Linked DNA regions of Homo sapiens. The protein of the gene in region 3 interacts with the protein of the main gene of each other region in a biochemical or structural test. Each region holds a gene or a part of one and is shown on either strand. Other genes may lie near its edges. The genes, in order: ANKRD1, UBE2D3, TRIM63, USP4, UBE2K, USP33 and UBE2D1.

Region 1 (3,246 bases), on a different chromosome or scaffold from region 3:
AAACACCATCTAATATAAGCTTAAAAAATATTGCCCAGAGGAACAGGTATAAATTTCTGAAGAAATAATTTTAAAGAAGCTTTTGAAGAATCACTTTACAAAAAAGAGTGGGGGGGGGGGGAGGGAAACTCAGTCATCATATAAATGCAAATAATTTTCTCCCCTTATTTGTGTTGCAAAGACTGAGAGGAATATCTTATCTTTTAAAACAAATCTGGCTTGGTGACAGGATCAAAGAATGGTGATAAATGAAGATTGCTTGGGATGGGAAAGTGTTAACAGTAGGGCTTCCTCAGTCTAGATATTGGAATTGATCCTATCTAATATTTTTTTAAACTATCAGAAAAAGAGCAGGTTAAATGAAATCTTGAAAGCTGCAGAAAATGTGAAGATTTTTTTTCAGGCAGTGAGACACTACCAGCAGAGACAAATAGCATACAGGTTTAGGGAGACTGTGTAAGTAGCCAGAAAAATCACAATATAAATTTCAATGGAGAGAAGTGCAAGGAATTTATGGAAGAGTAGCCCAAAATATACAAATACGGCTTAGGGTTCTGAATTATCAGTTAGATATTAGCATCAGGTTTATGGAACTATTAATGTCATTGACCCAATGGATTGATGTTTCCCCCAAAGATCAATAACCTATTGATGCCATCTTAAGGAGATTGGGAGCAGCATACAATATTTTCTCATTATCCAAAACTGTATATTCATGTCTACTGATGATTGTTCCTAGAGAAAGACACTACAGAGGTGGGGAAGTTCCAAAATGAAGGTTATAGGGCCACTAATTTAAATACCTACAGATCTCATAATCTGACTGCAGACTGACCTCACTGTGCCGGGCAGATGGCCTAAGTGACTTCAATGTGTGGCTGTCAGGGTCTGTGCACATAACTCTTTTAAAGGTGGCCCTTCCCCAACCCAGTCTATGTTGCTCTGTGGAACCATGGGTACCATGTTTTTAACTCTTCTGATTTTTTCATAGAAGTCACAAATCCAGCTCTTGGTTTCCAACTGTTGCCAATTCATACTAATCTTAAAAAAAATCTAAGTTCTGTTTGGGTCAAAACAAAACAGGTCTCTATTCTGGTTTGCATCTCAAAGCTGCCAATTTGCAGTCGCTGGGTTAAAAAGAAACTTCTCAATGAATAGAGATGGAAAAATTTTGGACTTCTCAGATCTATAGATGAGAATTGAGAGATGACATGGTTTTAATATTTTTAAATCTTGAGACACGTGCATAAGGGAAATCAAAATTTCGTCTCAAAAATTATTTGTTCACATGTGTCATTGCCATCAACTCCAAGAAAAATACATTTCCTGGGAGAGTCCATTGAAAATTCTGACAAGTTATGAAAAATCTGCTCCCAGGAACAGTAATAGTACCCAAGCAGTACCTAAGTCCTTAAGCCAAGTTATTGATGCAGCTCATTTACCATCATTTCTTATCAATCAAAGAACTATCATTCAAATGGATAGGCACTGATTCTTGGTCCAAGAGGCATGCTCCCACCTCCGGGAGTCCATTCCACAGGATACTGGAAGATGTATGGAGACATTTTATAAATTTCAAAATGACTTGAGGTGCTCTTGACACATAGTGTCTAGGGACAAGGGATTTTACCAATACCTGGGATGGTCCCACGTGAAAAAGATTTTTGCTCTAAAATGGCAAAAGCATCCCTCTGAGAAACAGTGAAGGACTGGTTTGAGTATAAACTGCAGATCACTCCTGGTGGAAACCATAAAACACTGTTATAACATATACCTAATCCTTACCTCATGAAACACACACAGAGAATGTGAATTTACAGATGTCACCCACCTGAAAGTCAACTTTCCTTATCTCATTTGATTAGGCTGGGAAGACGCCGATGGATCTGGTGCTACACTGGCAGAATGGAACCAAAGCAATATTCGACAGCCTCAGAGAGAACTCCTACAAGACCTCTCGCATAGCTACATTCTGAGGCAAACGACAGACTCTTAATCAGTAAATGTTCACTGGCATTTTGAAGGCATGGCCCAAGAGAAGAGACACTAGCCATAAAATCTAGTTTCTATTTATCAACGTGTTGTGAAGATGTACCTAATGAAGTTTTGAGAAAGCACAGGGTTATAGGTGTTTAAATTTCCTTTAGTGAAACTCTTATTTATTTTTATGTATTCCTGTTTATTTATTTACTGCCACGCTACTGATATTCAGACCTTCATGATCATCCATCTGGTGAGCAGAGCTTCATTTGTATATAACACTTTCAGAGCCTTCCCACCCATAGGTAGTTCTTAAACCAGGTGAAAGAGCAAAGTTCAAGTGCCTACTTATGTGTCATTCGCTCATGTAAGAGTTTTTAAGAGAGGGCTGATTATCACAGCCCTCTTTTCTCCTGAATTTTTAATGCAGAAGTTTGAATGAAGCAAGGGAAGGCATGTAGGGACAGGAAAGGAAACAATGGAAGGAAAGTGATTCTGTGAAAAGGACAGTGAAGCCAGCTATTTTACCCCCAGGCTGGATTTTTTTTTTTTTTTTTTTTTTTTTTTTTTACCGAGTACACAGAGTACCCAAGTGAAGAGAACGTCATGAGTGTAAGTGCAAATCAGTGGAAGGAGCGGCAAACTGGGACATGCAGAATTGAATTTGCTCAAAAAAGATGAAAGGAAATGCAAACTGTAAATGTATAAATGTATATTGTATTGTATGTACATTTTATATTCATAATAAAGGCAATCAAACTCTAAACCTCTAAGTCCTTCTATAAGTGTGGTGGAAATGTCCTATGTGAAAAAAAAAGCTATATAGGAGGGTTTTTTTTTTCCATTGTTTTCCAAGTTTTGCAGATTAGAAATGTCCCGTACAACAGCACTCCCAGTATTTAATATGTATACAGATCACCTGGGGATCTGGTTAAAATGCAGATTTCTGATTCAGCTGGTCTCAGGTGGGGCCTGAGATTCTGCTTTTCTGACAAGCTCCCAGGTGACAGGCCACGAAATGCCACCACCACACTGAGCAGCTAGGCCGAGAGCCATAAAGACACAAAGGAATTCTAGCGAGCTTTCAGTCCCAGTGGTGTGTAGAAAGAGACCCCTGGTGGTCAGAATGATTTCTGCATGGTAAACCCGCATTTCTTACGAAGTTCCCATTAAGGCTTAACTAGTGACTTTTTTAAATTTAAATTTTAAGTTCTGGGGTACATGTGCAGGATGTGCAGCGGTGTTACATAAACGTGTGCCATGGTG
Region 2 (3,500 bases), on a different chromosome or scaffold from region 3:
CCTCAACCTTGTTATGTAGGGAAGGGAAAAGTTTAGGGAAGTATTTTTATACTTTGTTGAAACATCTGATTTTTATCTCCTAATGATACTTTCAACATAATCTATTGTAAAAGAGACCTTCAACTTTTCATAGCTGAATTTGTCGTATTTAAATGTTTGTCAATTGTGAATCATGATTTCTTGTACCTTTTTCAGTATGAAATACTTACATTAATCCTAACCTTGCTGTAATTTCATGGCTAATGTGTAATTGAATGTTTTCTACTACTGGGCAGCTGTTTGGCTGTTAATCTTTGTTTTTTTTGTTTGTTTGTTTGTTTTGTTTGTTTTAATGTCCATAAAACACCCTTCTTGCTTTCATGGAGCAGAGCTTCAAATCTAAATTTGGGTTTCTTTGCCCATTTTTAAATAATGCTTACAAAAGAATGGCTTTGAATAATGTTAAGTGACTTTACCTTCAGTGGTGATCGAAAGAAAATTAGTAATATTCAATCCATTCTTAGTACCTTGTGTAATGAACACGCATGCTTGTTTCACCTATAATTACGACTAAACAGGAAGTTAATACCTTGTCAGTGATGCAGTGAGATACTGTGCAGTGCCTACTGTTAAACCTTAAGATAAAAAAGGATTTCTCAGAAGAAATTTCAAATTAAAATGTGTTTTAAAGGGACTATTTGGAGTTTTGTGAAATTGTTCATATCTTTTTGCCAAGCATCCTTCTCTTGAAATAACCATGTTTCTGAAGTTTGTTGTTCCCTGCCTTGATATTCGCATCTACATATTTTATACAGACATTTCATAACATTAAAGTTAATAAAACTTTATAGTAAACCAGATCTTTATATGAACAGTTACAGTAGTTACTGTCTGCCTGATGGACAGCTAATTGCACTGCACTTCGACCTCTATTGTTGGTTCGCACCTTTGTATTTTTCTAGGTTGGTTGTAAAGTCTTCTTGAGGATGATTCTTAAAATTTCTTAAGGCACTTACTCCCTTTGTTTCCCACCTCATTTTATCATCTCTTCCAGTCCCCAAAGCAGTGTTTTGTGTTGCTCAGTATAGGTTTTTGAGGCAAGGGCTGTTTTTATAATGCTGATTCACAGTCATACAAATCTTGTCTTTTGAGTCATGTAAATCTTGTCTTTAGTTCTGAAAGAAATAGACTCTCAAATAGAATACAAGAAATTAACCTTTAGTAATGGCATAAGCTTTTAGTTTTCCGGAAAGTGCTGAGAGGAAATGTATCTATACTACTGCGTTCTGTCCTCTGTATGACCTTTGTGTGATGACGTGCAAAATAGATGGTAGAGATTGGGATAACAAATGATTTGTGGAACATCGTGGTGATAATTTTACTGTCTTAAAGGTAGAATCCATGAACTTGGCCTTGCCACTATATAGGCTTTTGAATTTTGACAAGCCTTGGGGGGATGAAACCTAGAATAAGTTATTTATGGCGTTACGCTTTAATAGGGTTGACACTTAAAACCTTGTTTTCATAAATGCTACCTTTTGGTTATGTTGATCTGATGAACAGATACTGGCTGTCATTGAAAGAAAGTTAACCGAATGTTCAGATACTTATTGGGCTCCTGGAACATGGCTGCTCTGTAGCTTCATGAATATTCATAATATTCATAAATATTTGTGAATAAATATTTTTAGTATTTCCAATTTATAAGCTCTTTGAAAGGAGGGAATTTTTTTTTTTTTTTTTGAGGCGGAGTCTTGGTCAGCTGCCCAGGCTAGAGTGCAGTGGCGCAACTGCGGCTTACTGCAACCACCGTCTCCTGGGTTCAAGCAATTCTCCTGTCTCAGCCTCTCGAGTAGCTGGGATTACAGGCACCCGCCATCATGCCCGGCTAATTTTTATATTTTAGTAGAGATGGGATTTCACGATGTTGGCCAGGCTGGTCTTGAATTCCTGACCTCAGGTGATCCGCCTGCCTTGGCTTCCCAAAGTGCTAGGATTACAAGCGTGAGCCACCACGCCCAGCAAGGGAGGGGACATTCTTATGTTTCTCCTAGCATCCTTTCAGGTCTTTAATGTTTTCAATACCTTGGCCTACTGTTCTTTGTAGCCTGTGGTTGGTCACCACTGCTAGTACCACTTATCATTGAATGAGGAAGATAGAGAATAGAGAAGCAGAAAGCATAGTTTAACATCTCCAACAATCAACTGTTAAATCCCATATCCCATAGTGACTACAGTAAAGGTCTTCCTCAAGATAAACCATTTGCAGGCTTTGTATTAAAAATCTCATGTAAGGAATGTTTCAGAATAAAAAAAAAAATAGTGACCAAACCCATTACTGCTTAAATCATGTACTTCCAGATGAGAACACTCACCAGTGGCTTAAGCTGTACCTGTTGGTTGCCTTTTAGAGAGATTTTTTTGGTGAAAAAAATCCTGCCCTATTTTCTACCATGGTGCCCACCAGGTCTTCAGGAAATAGGCAAACAACTCAGTTGTGTAAAGTCTGTTGCTGTCTCAAATTTCTTTGTAGTGTTTTAACTAATGAGGCGAACTAGACCATGTGAGAGCTTTGAGAGGGTCTCATTTACCTAGCTTAGAAAGAAGGCAGAGGGGTCTCCTTGACTTCTTTTCCTATAGGTTTTTTAAGGCTTTTAAATACAAGTATTTTTTCCAGTGAGAAGGTCTGGATTCTCACACTAGCCAAGTGTGCAGAAAGTTTGAGGAGAAGCAGCTCAGAGGAAGATGACACTAAAAGGAGAAAGTTTCCTAAAAGAGCACTCTGTGGAAAAGAAATGTCCAACCTTTTGTTCTTTTTATAGCTAGTACAGTTTCTTAGTGTTGTACCCTGATTGTATGTGCTTGATCTTAGTGTCCCTTCAACGTGAGTGGAACCTTGAGCAATTCCTAAAGTAAGTCAGTGTCCCCAACCAAACATTTTCCTGTTTCAGTGGCCTTAATAGTTGAGTAATGCTGTTCCCCTTAGGTGAGGGGTAGTCAGCACAGTATAAAAAAATTTTACAGGTGCCGTGTGAGAGCTGTTCCTTCTGGTTCTTGGCACTGTTCCTCTTCCTCTAGACTGCTAGGAAGGAATAAGCTGAAAATTTCAATTGTGTAATTTTTTAGTGTTTTTGTCCCTGAAGCCTGTGAAACTTTAGGCTCTAAAAACATTTTGTTAGGTGACTATCGTAGACAAAATTACTTTTAAAAATGCTGAGTATGGGTGTCGTTGGAAATTGATTTCCAGTCCAGTAAATAGTCTTGCTGTGGGATAGAATCATTTTCTCAGGCCATGTAACTTGAAAAATAGTACTGGATTCACACTACGTACGAATAATGAGATACAGACTAACGGTGGATGGTTATGCGGAAATAAATACTAAGGAAAACATTAGTTTTCCATATCGTGTTCATTCTGGAGCATTGAGTAATAGTTTGGTGCAGTTGAGAATTTTTTTCCCTCAGTTTGCCAAACATTAAATTATCTTTGCAAGGACACCCTGTTGAGAAAGGAACCTTTT
Region 3 (3,415 bases):
TTGCTGGAGCAAGGAAGTGACTTGAGCCCAGCTCCCTGGGACGGAGTGCGGGGGATTGCAGGAGCAGGGCCTCTGTGCAGCGTGGGTCTGGCAAGCCCATCCCCTCCCAGACCACTGCCGCCGCTGTGTGGCCGTTTGACCCGACTGGGCACAGGAAGGGGTTTAGACCGTGCTCTCTCTTGCCTGGTTCCTCTTCAAGTAGCTCCTCAAGGAACCGGCCCCATCCTAACACAAATGTTTTTTTGTCACAGATGAGGAAGAGGAAGAATTCATTGAAGAAGAAGATCAGGAAGAGGAAGAGTCCACAGAAGGGAAGGAAGAAGGTAAGAAATTCATCTACCTCCATTCCTTCGTTCCTTCATTCATTCCACAACAATCTGAGGTGCCTACTGTATGTGAAGCACTGTGTTAGACATTGGCAATGACGCTCAGAACTGTCCCCAGCACGTGCTTTAACCCTACTGAGGGTAAAGTCCTGTTCTCTTTACCCTTAGAAAAGAAAAAAACCCCAAACTATTCATAATAAAATGCTCCCATTTCACATCTAAATGATCTTCTTAAATGGAAAGCAATATGGCACAGCAGAGGGAAAAGACAGGGGCTCATGAGCTAGGCTGGGCCCATTGAGGTGTTTTGTTTGGCCAGCACTGTGTTTAAATTAAAACAAACAAACAAACAAACAAAACTACTTGCTGGACAGGCACGGTGGCTCGAGCCTGTAATCCCAGCACTTGGGGAGGCCAAGGCCAGCCTGGCCAACATGGTGAAACCCTGTCTCTACTAAACATACAAAAAATTAGCTGAATTTGGTGGCAGGCGCCTGTAGTACCAGCTACTTAGGAGGCTGAGGCAGGAGAATCGCTTGAACCTGGGAGGTGGAGGTTGCAGTGAGCCGAGATCGTGCCACTGCACTCCAGCCTGGGTGACAAGAGTGAGACTCCATCTCAAAAAATAAATAAATAAATACTTGCTGGCTGGGTGTGGTGGTACGTGCCTATAATCCCAGCACTTTGGGAGGCTGAGGCGGGAGGATTGCTTGAGACCTGGAGTTTGGGACCAGCCTGGTCAACAGCAAGTCCTCGTCTTTACAAAAATAATTTAAAAATTAGCCAGGCATGGTGGTACATATCTGTAGTCCTAGCTACTCGGAAGGCTGAGGCTGGAGGATTGCTTGAGCCCAAGAGGTAGAGGCTGCAGTGAGCTATGATTGCGCCACTGCACTCTTGCCTTGGCAACAGAGGACACTACACTGTCTCTTAAAAGAAAAAATTAATTGCTAACATTTTTAAAATTAGGTTTTTTTTAAGGGTTAAGAAAAAGGAGATTTGAACTAAGAATCTGCATTTTCACCTTGTGAAAGTTTAGAAAAAGCAAACAATGCTGGACTTGAACTTCCTTGTAGTCCCAGAGTGCTGGCTCTGGGCAGTGGCTCTCCCCTTTAAAGGGGACACGCTGGCATGGTGGCTCACGCCTGTAATCCTAGCACTTTGGGAGGCCGAGGCAGGCGGATCACCTGAGGTCAGGAGTTTGACACCATCCTGGCCAACATGGTGAAACCCCGTCTCTACTAAAAATACAAAAATTAGCCAGGCGTGGTGACGGGCACCTGTAATCCCAGCTACTTGGGAGGCTGAGGCAGGAGAATCGCTAGAACCCCAGGGGGGCGGAGCTTGCAGTGAGCCGAGATCACGCCACTTCACTCCAGCCTGGGCAAAAGAGTGAAACTCCATCTCAAAAAAAAACAAAGAAAAGAAAAGAAAAATGGGACATGCCCTTGCCAGTTTGCCCAGCCCCACCACCACCAGTCCCGCTTGCTTCACTCATTCATGTTATCTGCTGGCTCCTTGTAGGCATCTGAGTTTGCCAGCCTGGCAGAGTTTGATTAGGAGCCTGGGTTCTGAATCACAGCAGCTCACAATTTCTCTGAGTCTTGGGCTACTCATCTGTGTATGGGGGTCTAACAGTACTGACGTCAAAAGGTTGTAGTGGGAAGTGAATAAGATAATCGTTTAGCACGGTGTCTGATGCATAGGAAGGACGTTTGCTAATTAGCACATGCTTGCAAATGTTATTTTTCAAACCACAGGTACTGAAACTAAATTCCAATCCAGTTGAAAACTATAGGTAGTCTTTTGGAGTTTTGTACTGATGTACAATCCATAATATTTGGGCAGCTAAATTCTATTTTGGTTTTAAAAGGAAGAGACCGGGAGGAATTGGAGTTTGATGTTTTATTCAAACTCCTGTTTGAATAAACAGTAGCTTGGTAAGCCTTGGATCCTCCTGAGTCCCTGTCTCACCCCTTGCCTCTGTATCTTTTTCTTCATTTCAGGACACCAGTAAGGAGCTGGATGAATGAGAGGCCCCCAGATGCAGAGAGACTGGAGAGGGTGGGGAGGGGCCCAGCGGCCTTGGTGACAGGCCCAGGGTGGGAGGGGTCGGGGCCCCTGGAGGGGCAATGGGGAGGTGATGTCTTCTCTCTGCTCAGAGAGCAGGGACTAGGGTAGGACCCTCACCGCTGCGTCCAGCAGACACTGAACCAGAATTGGAAACGTGCTTGAAACAATCACACAGGACACTTTTCTACATTGGTGCAAAATGGAATATTTTGTACATTTTTAAAATGTGATTTTTGTATATACTTGTATATGTATGCCAATTTGGTGCTTTTTGTAAAGGAACTTTTGTATAATAATGCCTGGTCGTTGGGTGACCTGCGATTGTCAGAAAGAGGGGAAGGAAGCCAGGTTGATACAGCTGCCCACTTCCTTTCCTGAGCAGGAGGATGGGGTAGCACTCACAGGGACGATGTGCTGTATTTCAGTGCCTATCCCAGACATACGGGGTGGTAACTGAGTTTGTGTTATATGTTGTTTTAATAAATGCACAATGCTCTCTTCCTGTTCTTCAAAGGAGCCGGGGTTTCATTCAGCCTTTTTTTCCTGGAGATGAGGGTTGAGTGTGAATGAACAGGACCCCTGGTAGGAGGCAATGGCAGGGCTAGGCTTAGGTCCCAGTAAAGGAGTTCTCGACACCACCATTTCCCAATGTGGACTCCATGGAAAGCCAGCCCTGAGCTGGTCCTTCAAGAACAGGTTCAATGTGTTGTTGCTCTGGTTCTCCAGAAAACAGAGCCTGAGGCAAAATTTAAATGCTTTAGTTGCAGGTTATAGGGACTTCCCCGTGCTCACTGAAGGCTCACTGAAGGCTCACTGAAAATCATCAAGAAGAGGCAGATTAAGGCTGGGCAGGTGCAGTGGTTCATGCCTGTAATCCCAGCACTTTGGGAGGACAAGGAGGGCAGATCATCTGAGGTCAGGAGTTCCAGACCAGCCCGACCAACATGGTGAAGCCCCGTCTCTACTAAAAATACAAAATTAGTTGGGCGTGGTGGCGCATGCCTGCAATCCTAGCT
Region 4 (2,205 bases), on a different chromosome or scaffold from region 3:
CCACCACACCCAGCCCCATTTTCTAGCCTGAATATGTCAGTGGTCAGAACATGGATCCTAGAGTCCCTTCCATCTTGGTCTCTCTCGAATAGTTTGAGTGCCTCCCTGTGTTCTGCCCTGTTGCATAACAGAGGTTGCTGGGTTACTCTTAACTACTTTGTTTGGGTTTAACATATTCAATAACTATTTTTGTGTTTTGTGCTCAGAGGGCTGAACATGTCCGAGTTTGTCTGTAACCTGTCAGCAAGGCCTTATGTGTACGACCTCATTGCCGTGTCCAATCATTATGGAGCCATGGGGGTTGGCCACTGTAAGTATTGACATCTGCTTCCTTCTGAGATGTTGAAATGTGCTCGGCCATCATCTCTCACCAGTGGACCAGGCATTGCCCTAAATGCTTTGCTTATGCAGTTTCACAGGCTTCATGCTGCACGCTTTCTTCATACTGATTCCCCTCTCTGTTTTTTTTTAATTCTTTTTTTTTTTTTTTTTTTGAGACGGAGTCTCGTTATGTCACCCAGGCTAGAACACAGTGGCGCAATCTCACTCACTGCAAGCTCTGCCTCCCAGGTTCACGCCATTCTCCTGCCTCAGCCTCCTGAGTAGCTGGGACTACAGGCGCCCGCCACCACGCCTGGCTAATTTTTTGTATTTTTAGTAGAGACGGGGTTTCACCATGTTAGCCAGGATGGTCTCGATCTCCTGACCTCGTGATCCGCCCGCCTCGGCCTCCCAAAGTGCTGGGATTACAGGTGTGAGGCACTGTGCCTGGCTGGTTTGCTCTTTTTTTGAGACAGATTCTCACTCTGTCACCCAGGCTGGAAAGCAGTGGCGCAGTCTCGGCTCACTTGCAACCTCCACCTCCCGGGTTCAAGCGATTCTCGTGCCTCAGCCTGCCGAGTAGCTGGGATTACAGGTGTGCGCCACCACACCTGGCTAATTTTTGTATTTTTAGTAGAGACAGGGTTTTGGCATGTTGCCCAGGCTGGTCTTGAACTCCTGGGCTCAAGCGAACCACCCTGCCTTGGCCTCCCAAAGTGTTGGGATCACAGGTGTGAGTCACCGTGCCCTGCCTGTGTTCATTTTTATTTGCTAATTTTTGCACACAAACATACCATTTGGGCAAGTTTCTCATCCTCAGTTTTCTCATCCATGAGGTTAGGCTGGTTGTGTGAGGGTCCACATTGGGCCTACAGTTGGAACTTCAAAATTGAAAGCCACCGTTGCTGCTATTGTGTCAAGCACAGACTGTGTGAACTGGCCTTGGGCACCTTCTCTGTTGCCCTTTCCCATGATCCTCACCACCACTTTGTGCAGTCAATGCTATAGTGAGGAAACTGAGGCTGAAGTGTTAAACACCTTACCTAAAACCACACAGTAAGTTGACACTGGATATCAGATCTCCATTGGGTTCTGTAGTTTCTGAGAGTCTGGGTGGAGCAGGAACTGGGCTGGGATTGCTGTAATAAACACATCCTGCTTGGGAATAGTGTAAAGTCAAGACAAGAAGCATTGCCTCTGGGAAATGCTTGAATCATTGTGGGAAACTGTTACCTAACCACAGACTCTGGACTCCTAGTTTTAGAGAAAGATAAATTTTTTTTTTTTTGGATATGGAGACTAAGGTATGTTGTTCACATCCCAGCTCTGCAAACCCAAACACCCAATGTTCCTCTAACTGGGATTATTCTGTAGGCTCCCGAGGCACTAAGCATTCTGTTGATGTTAGTAGCCACCTGCCTAGATGCAATGGGGGAGACTGACTTGGCATGTCCTTGTGAGAGCTATTGTTTTGCTTAAATCTTAGAAGTTTCAGCTCCTTTTATGGGTTCCCTGGTTTTGGATTATTGCACATAGCCATCCTGAAGATTGGCACTGAATAGCTCTGTTTTTTCTATTAGTTTCCCAAAATTATAGTTTAAAATCTTGGTCCCTGACAGCTCCATTTTTAGCCTTTTGATCCTTTTTGAGAAGGAACAGATTAGAAAAGAAGGTGAGTTGTTTTTTGGTTGTTAAGACACACACTGTAAACTTTTTTAATTTCAGGGGTTTTGTTTTGGGGATTTTTGTGTTTATTTAGTGCAAGCCTAATAAGCTAGCCAGATTAATTCTCTGGAGACCGCTAGAGTATTTTCTTTGTTGACTTGGCAGACACTGCATATGCGAAGAACAAACTGAATGGTAAATGGTATTACTTTGATGATA
Region 5 (3,500 bases), on a different chromosome or scaffold from region 3:
GCCTCTACTAAAAATACAAAAATTAGCCGGGCATGGTGGCGGGCGCCTGTAGTACCAGCTACTCGGGAGGCTGAGGCAGGAGAATTGCTTGAACCCGGGAGGCGGAGGTTGCAGTGAGCCAAGATCGTACCACTGCACTCCAGCGTGAGAGACAGAGCAAGACTCTGTCTCCCAAAAAAAAAAAAAAAAAAAATGAATAAACAGAATTGGTATAATATGCTAAAGACATTCTAGGGTCTTAAAAAATCTGGATTAAAAACAAGAAAATATTCAAGAATATTAGATTTTTAAAAAGTGTTTTGGGTAGCCGGGCACGGTGGCTCACTCCTGTAACCCCAGCACTTTGGGAGGCCGAGGCTGGCAGATCACGAGGTCAGGAGATCGAGACCATTCTGGCTAACACGGTGAAACACCGTCTCTACTAAAAAAATACAAAAAAAATTAGCCGGGCATGGTGGCGGGTGCCCGTAGTCCCAGCTGCTCGGAAGGCTGAGGCAGGAGAATGGCGTGAATCCAGGAGGCGAAGCTTGCAGTGAGCCGAGATCGCGCCACTGCACTCCAGGCTGGGCAACAGAGCGAGACTCCATCTCAAAAAAAAAAAAGTGTTTTGGGTAACTGTTCATTACAGAATTATAGAACCACTCGAAAGTATTTAGCTGGTGGCCGGGATTGGTGGCTCACGCCTGTAATCCTAACACTTTGGGAGGCCAAGACAGGCGGATCACCTAAGGTCAGAAGTTCAAGACCAGCCTGGCCGTTATTGTGAAACCCTGTCTCTACTAAAAATACAAAAATTAGCCGGCATGGTGGTGCGCCTGTAATCCCAGCTACTCAGGAGGCTAAGGCAGGAGAATCACTTGATTCTGGGAGATGGAGGATGCAGTGAGCCAAGATTTCACCACCGCACTCCAGGCTGGGTGACAGAGAGACTCAGTCTCAAAAAACAAACAATCAAAAAATGAACAACAAAAAACACACACAAAGTATTTAACTGGATATGGTGGCATGCACCTGTAGTACTAGCTACTGAGGAAGCTGGAGGATTACCTGAGCCTAGGAATTCAAATTTATAATGAGCTATGACCATGCCACTGCTCTCCAGCTTGGGTAACAGTAAAACTTTGCATATAAAAAAATAGATAAAACAAAACAGACATCACCACCACTTCCAATATTAAGTCAATTCTGATTTACATAAAGTGATTAAAAGCACAGGCTTTGAAGACAAAGGCTATCAGTTGTGCTACTTAGATGGTTGACCTTAAACAAGTTACTTCTCTTAACTTGTTTCTTCATCTATGAAACAGCAATCGTTGTATTTACCTAGTAAGATTTGCTGAAAGGATTAAATGAGAAAATACATGTAAAGACTGTATAATTAGGGTTACCATATATTGTTATATGTTTTCTAATAAACAAATATTTGAATAGTTATTAATGCAAGAGCCTTGGTTATATGCTATATAATCTAAATTTACAGTAATATTAATTAATGAAGACTCACCTAATAAGAAAGTAAAATGCTATAAGGTTTATTTCTGTATCTTACCACCCGATTCCATGGTCTAAAGTAGCTACAGACTTAATTTGTGAACACCAAGTTCAGCAAAGCCACCTCCTTTCTATGGCTTGAAATAATCACTAAAAGCTTTCCTGAATAAAGAAAATAAACATTTGGACTACAGCCTGTATGAAGACATGAGTGAATGAAATGCTGAATGACAGAAAGAAGAACTTTAAAAACAAAAGCAACATTTTACCAATGAGATATTTAAGGCAAGGTCTGTTTTAGATACCATATGAAGGGTAACTGAGTGTCTACAGTCCATATGATTTAGAGGTTTACCATGCCAGATCTTTTATTCTATTAAATTCTAACCTATAATACCTGTAACAAAGCTCTGCTAAAACTGTTTTATGGAAAGAAAAAAATTAGCTAAAATTCAGTAAGAAATACCAGTCTATATTCAGTATCTAAATTTAGTATTTTTTAAATTGCTGTTTATCTAAACCAAATGAAGTTACCCTCCATATAATTTATAGATGTTTAAGATTATTCTGATTAAATGTTTCAGACAAGTTCTAATACGCACAATATTTTGATACAGAAAAAAGTACTTGCCTTCATATGGTGTGTCTGGAGGTCCTGCTATTTCTCCTCTTAATTCTGTAAAATTCTCATCTACAAGATCTACTTTAATTTGATTTTTGCTCGTCTTAAAAATAAACAGAAAATAAATGTTAGTTATGTCAGCAAGAAAAACGCCTAAAGTATTACCTATAAAAAATCTTGAAACCCCCTCTTTCATAAGCTTGATTATCTGCTCTAGTAAAATAAGTCTCGGCTTTTCTAGGACTTAATTATCCAGTTTTAAGAATATTTAAAACAAACTAATAAATTCTAACTTCATTGTTTTAAACGAAATAACACCACTATGAACAACAATACAATGGCTTCTTGACTTTCTAGGAATGTTATTAGGGAAAAATAGTATAAAAGCTATTTTATGTTTGCCAATTCCATGTATATCAGGCCCAAAGCGATAAATCTAATCATCCACAGATGAACACTAAGATATTATATTCTGCACTATACCCCCACGATACATGGGTTCTGCTTAAACAGAAAATTCAGGGTCATTAAAAGCCATTTAGGCCATAAACTCTCACTTGAACTAACCATAACAACTTTAAATGTTTAGTTTAACTGACTGAAATAGTACACTATCCACCAGAATGGTGAAAGCTCTAGCTACCTAACAGATTCTCCTTTCCATGAAAAATTCCAGAGGACTAAATGCCTCAAAAGAAAAGGCCTTCTTCAATTTGTTTTTCTGCTTAGTTTATTAAAACGGCAACTACCTACTTCAAAAAACCAGATTTCTACTTTAAATTTATCTACATTGACTTATTTTGCACTTTAAACTACTCCAAGTACTTTCCTATCTATAGCATTACTGAGTCTCTTAACCTTATGACAGTCCATTCTCAGAGCCATGATAACCTTAAATGATTCAGAAAACCATCCAGTGGGACTCACATTAACATTCGTAAGTGCCTGCCAGCAAATGGGCTCTCCACTTATATTCTCAAACCTATGTTAAAAATACAGTAAATCCTCTCGATTTTTTAAACCAAAATCCCTAAAGAACAGGTTACATCTTCCTTTTTTTGAGACGGAGTCTTGCTCTTGCTGCCCAGGCTGGAGTGCGATGGCACGATCTCGGCTCACTGCAACCTCCACCTCCTGGGTTCAAGTGACTCTCCTGCTTCAGCCTCCTGAGTAGCTGGGATTACAGGCACCCACTACCATGCTCAGCTAATTTTTGTTATTTTTAGTCAAGACGGGGTTTCGCCACGTTGGCCAGGCTTGTCTCGAACTCCTGACCTCGCGATACGCCCGCCTTGGCCTCCCAAAGTGCTGGGATTATAGACGTGAGGCACCGTGCCCGGCCTATATCTTCATTTTTTTTGGTTAGAATTCCATATTGTTACCTGAT
Region 6 (3,500 bases), about 52 Mb from region 3:
GTGACCATTATTTTTGTAGCCCTTATGGTTTCTCTGAAGTGCATCTTGAACTTGGACCTGAGATGACATGGGTGCAGGTGAGATGCTATAAAGCACAAGTGAGGAAGCAGGTAGAATCAGAGAAGGAGGAAAAAAGGTTAATAGTGGAAGGCCAACTGGAGGCTGCTTAAGCCTTTGGAGATTTTTGTATAACTGCCTCAGAGTTTTGTATAACTGCCCCAAATGAAGGGGAGCTGGGTGGTTTTCCATCTACAGTCAATCCTCACTGATAAAGATTGCCTTTATCTAAAAGGCTCCCAGAACTTCCCAGGTACACTGGTTAGGTAGGGCTTGGCAAGCTCCTGAGGTGCTGGAGAGCTGAGGAGAGAAGTAGTTGAGATGGGAAGTTGTCAGTGTGTTAACTGTGCATACCAGCTACAAGTAAACATTGAAGTGAGCTGAAAGGAGATGGTCCAGGTATCAACTCTGTGTCTTAACAGGCATTCTCATTGAATAATCCAGATGTGAAATAAAAGCCTCAATTTAGATAGAGACCTAGAAGAAATGTGAGATGAAATGTGGTTAAAAAAAAAAATGCCGAATTTAGAAACTGATAGAAAGTGAGGAGGGGAGCCAGGTGCTGTGGCTTGAGCCTGTAGTCTCAGTCACTTGGGAGGCTGAAACAGGAGATTTGCTTGAGCCCAGAAGTTCAAGTCCAACCTGGGCAATATAGAGAGCCTCCCATTTCAAAAAAAGTAAATGAAAAAAGTAAGGAGGGATCTAAGATGGTACTGAGGTTTAAAAGTTAGTTAACTTGTGAAAAAGAAGGGTTGACAGAAGGACACTGACTTTCAAATTAGTTTTTTAAGGAAAGTGAAAAAATTGCATAGTATTCAGGAGAGTGATGATAAGAGTGTTGATGACCAGTCATTCAAAAGGAAAGCAGGGTGGAGACTTGAACAATGCTGCCATCCCCACAAACTTATAATGTCTGGCCCATGCTGGATTATAAGCATTTGTTAAATTAATTTCTATCCCCCAGGGCTTATCACAGTCCTGAAATACAGTAATGTGGTGAAACTATAGGGCTGAATGTGACCTAAAATAAGACCATTTCCCACAGGTTTTAACTTTTATAAAATCCTAGAAGAGGAATTTCTTATATATTTTACTTTTTTGTGAAAGGGTCTCACTCTTGCCCAGCCTGGCGTGCAGTGGTGCGATCTTGGCTCACTGCAACCTCCACCTCCTGCGTTCAAGCAGTTCTCACCACTCAGCCTCTGGAGTAGCTGAGATTACAGGCGCACGCCACCATACCCAGCTAATTTTTGTATTTTTTGGTAGAAATGGGGGTTTCACCATGTTGGCCAGGCTGGTCTCAAACTCCTGACCTCAAGTGACCCTCCCACCTTGGATTCCCAAAGTGCTGGGATTACAGGCATGAGCTGCCATGTCTGGCTGGAATTTCTTATATTTTTTATGGAAGCATTACTGTGTTTAGATGAATCAGTTTTGATTAGTTTTAAAATCAATATTATAGTCTGGTAAACAATAAAAGAATTGATAATTTTTCTTATGGTGGTTCTCATTTGAATATGGTGATAGCATTTGTTTTCTCATATTCTTTCTTTCTTTTTTCTTTTTGCTCACAAGCTGAACTGAAGATTTAGGTTTTTCCATGTTTCTATGTGGTTTACATGAATATTTTTAATGACTGTTCCGTAATGCCAGTATATTAACTCTTCATCTTGCTCAAAAGTGAGACTTAGAGTGAAAATTATCATCAGCTTATTTGAGACTCTGTTAGAACTCTGTCATATTCATTAATTCATTTCTATTTCCTCTCTCTTCCAATATTTCTCAAAATTATTTCAACGAGATAAGGCTAGAATTGACCATATTTTGCCATTCATTATTGGACAGATTTTTAAAAATCTTTATAGGAAATGCTAATTAATATTTACAAATCTCATTTAGAGGATGTTATTTGGAATGAAGATTGCCAGATTGGAGCTATACTTTGGTATTATTAATAGTGGTAATGTTAAGAATAGATTGTAGAACACATAGGTTGTAGCCAGAGAACTCAGTTAGAAGACTGCGTATTTCTTTTAATAGCCTTAAGGCTCTCATTAATTAGACTCTTAAGGATCAATGAGACAGATTTTCTAGTAAAAGAGAAATAAAAAGATTAGCACTACATTTCTTTTTCTGTGTTGTGGTTTTGAATGAAAATTAAGAATGATTAGGTAAGTATTATAGGACTTTGTGGGATCTTCAAATCCTCACAGAGGTTTGAATGATTTTATTCTCAGAATATTTGTTTAAAGGGAAAGAAACAGTTATTTAAAATGCTTGTCAGCTGATTTCTTTTGTGAAAAGTCTCCCTGAGCACTTACTATGGATTGAGAATAAAATAAACTTTTCTGCTTGTTGTTGCACTCTTCATTGATAACTTCCTTCCATTCATCAGTTTTTTTGGCTTGCTTTTATTGGGTAGCAATTTTCTTCCATGATAAATATGGAAAGATAAGCCATAAGCTTATTCCTTCATTGTATTTTTGCTAAAGTGTAATATTTCATATGGTACTGCTGGACTAGTACTCGTGGAACCATAGTCTAGATTGAAACTGTTGAAAGACAAATCAATTTTTTTATAATCATAGAATCTTAATTCAATTCTGAGTTTTTAGTGCAAAGTGCTTGCTGTCCTTTGAAGCACCTCTGACAGTTACCCAACCTCTGTGTAACAATTATGGGGAACATGCTCCTTCCATGAAAGTTCATCTGTATTTGAACCGAAGTCTTCACCGTTGATTGAATATGCTGTTCTGACTTTCTCAAGTTGCACAGAAAAGAAAGGATCCCTTTGGTCATCATGTTCAATTGGAACATGTGTATCAAGTCCTGGCATCTTTTGCCTTCTGCTGTTTAAACATCCATGCTTTCAGTTCGTAATGGTTGACATTTACTGAGTACTTACTATATCACCCTCTTCTAAGTATTTTATATATACTAATATATAATATGTAATTATATATTAACGTATTATGTGTAATTATATAATTAGTTTAAAATATTATATATTAATCTTCTCCAAAACTCTAGAAAGTAGATATTTGTAATTAGATCAGTGTTTTAGATGAGGGAGCTAAGGCAAAGAGAAGAAACTTACCACTGGTCCCAAATCTAGGAGATAGTGGAGCCTTGCTCCAGAAACTTTACTCTTAGTACAGTGCTATCTTATAAGATACAGTTTTCAAATTATTTCTTTTAAGGTTTTCTATGAGAGGCACTCTTATTCTGTAGCTTTTAGTATTCTTCTTAAATAAAATACTGTATTCCAGATATAATCTACTTATTTTATGCGAACATTAAGATTGGCTATTATTTTTTCCCCTTTTCACCACTCTATTCAATTAAAAAATTATTATTTTTTTTTTGTAAAGATGGGGGGTGGGTATCACTCTGTTGCCTAGGCTGGTCTTGAACTCTTGGCCTCAAGCGATCCTCATGCCCCT
Region 7 (3,500 bases), on a different chromosome or scaffold from region 3:
AGCTATTTAAAAAAAAAAAAAAAAAAAGCAAAACAAAAATGAAAATACCAAGGTATACTGGAAAATAACATTGAGCTTAGAAGGAGACCTGAGTTTGTACCTGGCTCAGTCACCCAGCTCATTTATCACTTTCTTAGGAAGGCCTTTCCCTGTCACACCCTCCTTCTTGTTTGTCTCTATTAGAGCACTGAACTCATTGCCATAATTACCTTATTGCAGTGATTCTAAGGTGGACATCTTTCACATTTTAACTTTTCTAAAGTGTGGATGCATTTTACAATTGATGGTGTTTTAAAATAAATTGGCAGCATTTTTTCTTAATTATTGGTACTTAAAATAAGGATGTGCTGTACAGTTGATGACATCTTAGATTTGATTAAGTGCATATTTATTTTTGTGTGTTCCCACAAAAATGTTTACATCATTCTCATGGTTTTAAATATCAGATATATGCAATGATTTTCCAATTTCTATCCTTTTTTAAGGTCCACCCCTGTATGTTGAACCACATTGTTTCTTCATATCACAAGGATTACAGATTCAACATATCTACTCTCCAAATCAGTTTGTCTTCTATTGTTCTCTATCTCAGTGAATGGCATCCACATTCGTACATTTGTGGAACTAAAACATGAGATGATCGCCCACCTGGGTTTGAATCCCAGTTCCGCCCTATAGTAGTTACTCAAGCATGCAGTGAAGTATGTCACCTTAACTATTCACTTGTAAAATGGGGAACATAATAACACCTATCTCTGAGGATTGTTAGAATGACTAAGACATTGAATAAATGTTAGCTGTCCCTAATCTTCATCATACATATCTATGACTTCTCTCCTTCCTCTGCACATGTAATTCATCAACTCCTGTGATAGATAGGCCCTTCAGAGTATCTCACATCTACCACTTCTATCTTGTTGCCACTTCTCCAATCTAAGCCCCCATTTTTCTTGCCTATGCAGCAACTAATATTGTAGCTTCTCCTCTTTCCCATGTCTAATCCAGTCACAACCATCCATTAAATCAGAACATGCCACTTCTTAAGACCTCCCTCACCCCCTACCTAATGCATTTGGTATAAAACACCACATCATTAATGTGGTCTGTATGGTTGTCTGTTTCCTGCCTGGCTTCTGCCCACATTTCCAGCCTCATCCTCTGCCACTCTGCCTCCCAGTATCACTCTTTTCCTCCAAAAGTAACTCCTACTCATCCTTTAGATTTCAGCTTAAATGTCACTTCCTCAGAGATGATTATTGATCTTCCAAACTAAATTAAGTTCTTCAGTTATAGTCCTTTATATTGAATGTATGCCTTTCTTCTTTGGGATGATCAGTTTCTCCCAAACTGTGGCTAAAGAAGTGAAGTAACTTCCACAAGGCCAAAGAGTGAGATCTATTAGAACTGGAATTCTCTCTGTTAGAGGAAAAAAAAAAATCCAAAAAAGAGAAAAGAAGAAAAATGGAAAGAACTGGAATTACAACCCAGGGGCGGGGTGAACTCTAAAGCTGTGTCCTTTCTGTGATCTTTGCTGCCTTGAGGGCAGGAAACAGGGTATGAATCAATGTTCTAAGTTTCAAAACATGGCCTGACTGCTGCTCGTTTATTTCCCATTTCAAGTTGTCCTTAAATGAGCTGGGTGCAGTGGCTCATGCCTGTAATTCAATACTTTGGGAGGCCGAGGCAGGTGGATCACTTGAGCACAGGAGTTGGAGAACAACCTGTTCAACATGGCGAGACCCCATCTCTACAAATAAAATTAGCCGGGTGTGCTGGCACATGCCTGTAGTGCCAGCTACTCGGGGTAGGAGTGGGGGCCTGAGGTGGGAGGATCGCTTAGGCCCAGGAGGTTGAGGCTGCAGTGAGCTTTCGTGCCACTGCACTCCATCCTGGGCGACAAAGTGAGATCCTGTCTCAAAAAAAAAAAAAAAGTTATCCTGAAGTATTATTCTTTCTGAGCCTTCATGCTCCCTCAATAGATTGTAACCTGTTAAAATAGTACCTGTTTTCTGATATATTATCAACCTAGCATTTACATAAATTATCTTACATACAGTAGGTACTCATTAAATAGTTTTTCTCTTAGGGATGTTAAAGAAAAACAGTATTTTTTTTCCATTTAATCTTTTCAAGGTCTGAAGCTGTCTCATGGAGGAATTGAGTACCTTATTCTTTCTACCAGTCAATGACAGAGTACAATTTATGTTTTTATATTTTGAATAGAACTGCTTTAAATGTTTTTAAAGCTAATAGTTTGCATCTTAATGGATCATTACCCTTGTTTCATTGGGAAAAGAAGGAATTAACCTTACATATTTTTGATTTCCTTCAGGAATTGAGTGATCTACAGCGCGATCCACCTGCTCACTGTTCAGCTGGACCTGTGGGAGATGACTGTAAGCCTTGCTCTATTTCTGGGATTATGCTACCTTTAAAAATATAGGTTTGAACATTTGTTAATGACTCCAAAACTCCTTTGTTTGTTTCAGTGTTCCACTGGCAAGCCACTATTATGGGGCCTGTAAGTATGATTCATATCTATGAAATTAACCCCCTCAGCCATACTTCATTCTTGCCATTTCACCTTTGATCAGATGTTTGTGATGAAGGTTGAATATTCTTGTACTTTGAATCACCTAGGAAGCAAAATATTATTAAGGATTTACAATGATTTTCCAAAGCATTGGTGGCAAATATTTCCTGGGATCACTATTATGTTTTCCTTTGCTGAATCCTAGATCATTACACATAATGGAGTGCCACAGCTCGCAACCAGGCTGTGTGTTTATCTTTTTTTTTTTTTTTTTTAAGTCACAGAGAGTTAGTTGTAATTAACCATAATCATTCTCACATCCACAGTTTTGGTAGGTTAGAAATTAGTCTAATGAAGCCAATAATTGAATTCCTACAAGTAACAAGTGTCAGTTTGCCATAAGTTTCATCACTGTTCTTTTTTGTGAAAGAGAATCAATAAAATATTACAATGGGTCTGTCTTTACCTCCTTATAAATTTGCTGCTTTTAATTTTGTTGCATTGTCCTAAACACAAAATTATCTGCTGTTTGATAATTGGCTACTCTCAATACTTATTACTTTTGTTAAAATTATTTCTTTCAATACTTTAGAGGCAGTTACAAGACTTGAAACAGGCTTTTTCTTTCTATGAGCAAAAAATCTGATTGCATAAGAATGAGCACTGACAGCTCAAATCTACTTTCTGGGTGAGAGTACATAAGTAACATGTTTCCATGAACACCATTCTCTTCTCCCTGCCCTGAAAGAGCTTTATCTAGTGAGTTACAGAGTTTTTAATCATACGACCTTGTGTTTAACTTTAAAAAACACCAAAACTACTGAATTTCAAAGCAGTACTCTGGGCAGTTGTCTCAAATTATTGTTTTATTAAGTTTGTTTTTCTAAAAAGGCAAAATACAATGTATTTATATAACAACTTTCAATAAGAATCCATTTATTTCTGTTTGTTTTTAATTAGTTACTAA

The links.
Region 1: the proteins of TRIM63 (region 3) and ANKRD1 form a complex in vitro, tested with the Homo sapiens proteins (one study listed by BioGRID).
Region 2: the proteins of TRIM63 (region 3) and UBE2D3 form a complex in vitro, tested with the Homo sapiens proteins (5 studies listed by BioGRID).
Region 4: of the proteins of TRIM63 (region 3) and USP4, one has a biochemical effect on the other in vitro, tested with the Homo sapiens proteins (one large-scale study listed by BioGRID).
Region 5: the proteins of TRIM63 (region 3) and UBE2K form a complex in vitro, tested with the Homo sapiens proteins (one study listed by BioGRID).
Region 6: of the proteins of TRIM63 (region 3) and USP33, one has a biochemical effect on the other in vitro, tested with the Homo sapiens proteins (one large-scale study listed by BioGRID).
Region 7: the proteins of TRIM63 (region 3) and UBE2D1 form a complex in vitro, tested with the Homo sapiens proteins (3 studies listed by BioGRID).

Annotation. Positions count from the first base shown.
Region 1 is NC_000010.11:90,911,596-90,914,841, reverse strand, and holds the end of ANKRD1 (ankyrin repeat domain-containing protein 1), read left to right. Parts: intron 1-1,865; coding exon 1,866-1,976; 3' UTR 1,977-2,746; downstream 2,747-3,246. UniProt on the Homo sapiens protein: May play an important role in endothelial cell activation. May act as a nuclear transcription factor that negatively regulates the expression of cardiac genes. Induction seems to be correlated with apoptotic cell death in hepatoma cells.
Region 2 is NC_000004.12:102,817,552-102,821,051, reverse strand, and holds part of UBE2D3 (ubiquitin-conjugating enzyme E2 D3), read left to right. Parts: intron 1-3,500. UniProt on the Homo sapiens protein: Accepts ubiquitin from the E1 complex and catalyzes its covalent attachment to other proteins. In vitro catalyzes 'Lys-11'-, as well as 'Lys-48'-linked polyubiquitination.
Region 3 is NC_000001.11:26,050,801-26,054,215, reverse strand, and holds the end of TRIM63 (E3 ubiquitin-protein ligase TRIM63), read left to right. Parts: intron 1-251; coding exon 252-323; intron 324-2,332; coding exon 2,333-2,343; 3' UTR 2,344-2,915; downstream 2,916-3,415. UniProt on the Homo sapiens protein: E3 ubiquitin ligase. Mediates the ubiquitination and subsequent proteasomal degradation of CKM, GMEB1 and HIBADH.
Region 4 is NC_000003.12:49,278,849-49,281,053, reverse strand, and holds part of USP4 (ubiquitin carboxyl-terminal hydrolase 4), read left to right. Parts: intron 1-206; coding exon 207-310; intron 311-2,151; coding exon 2,152-2,205.
Region 5 is NC_000004.12:39,736,136-39,739,635, reverse strand, and holds part of UBE2K (ubiquitin-conjugating enzyme E2 K), read right to left. Parts: intron 2,217-3,500; coding exon 2,123-2,216; intron 1-2,122. UniProt on the Homo sapiens protein: Accepts ubiquitin from the E1 complex and catalyzes its covalent attachment to other proteins. In vitro, in the presence or in the absence of BRCA1-BARD1 E3 ubiquitin-protein ligase complex, catalyzes the synthesis of 'Lys-48'-linked polyubiquitin chains.
Region 6 is NC_000001.11:77,753,353-77,756,852, reverse strand, and holds part of USP33 (ubiquitin carboxyl-terminal hydrolase 33), read left to right. Parts: intron 1-3,500. UniProt on the Homo sapiens protein: Deubiquitinating enzyme involved in various processes such as centrosome duplication, cellular migration and beta-2 adrenergic receptor/ADRB2 recycling.
Region 7 is NC_000010.11:58,359,006-58,362,505, forward strand, and holds part of UBE2D1 (ubiquitin-conjugating enzyme E2 D1), read left to right. Parts: intron 1-2,332; coding exon 2,333-2,396; intron 2,397-2,489; coding exon 2,490-2,521; intron 2,522-3,500.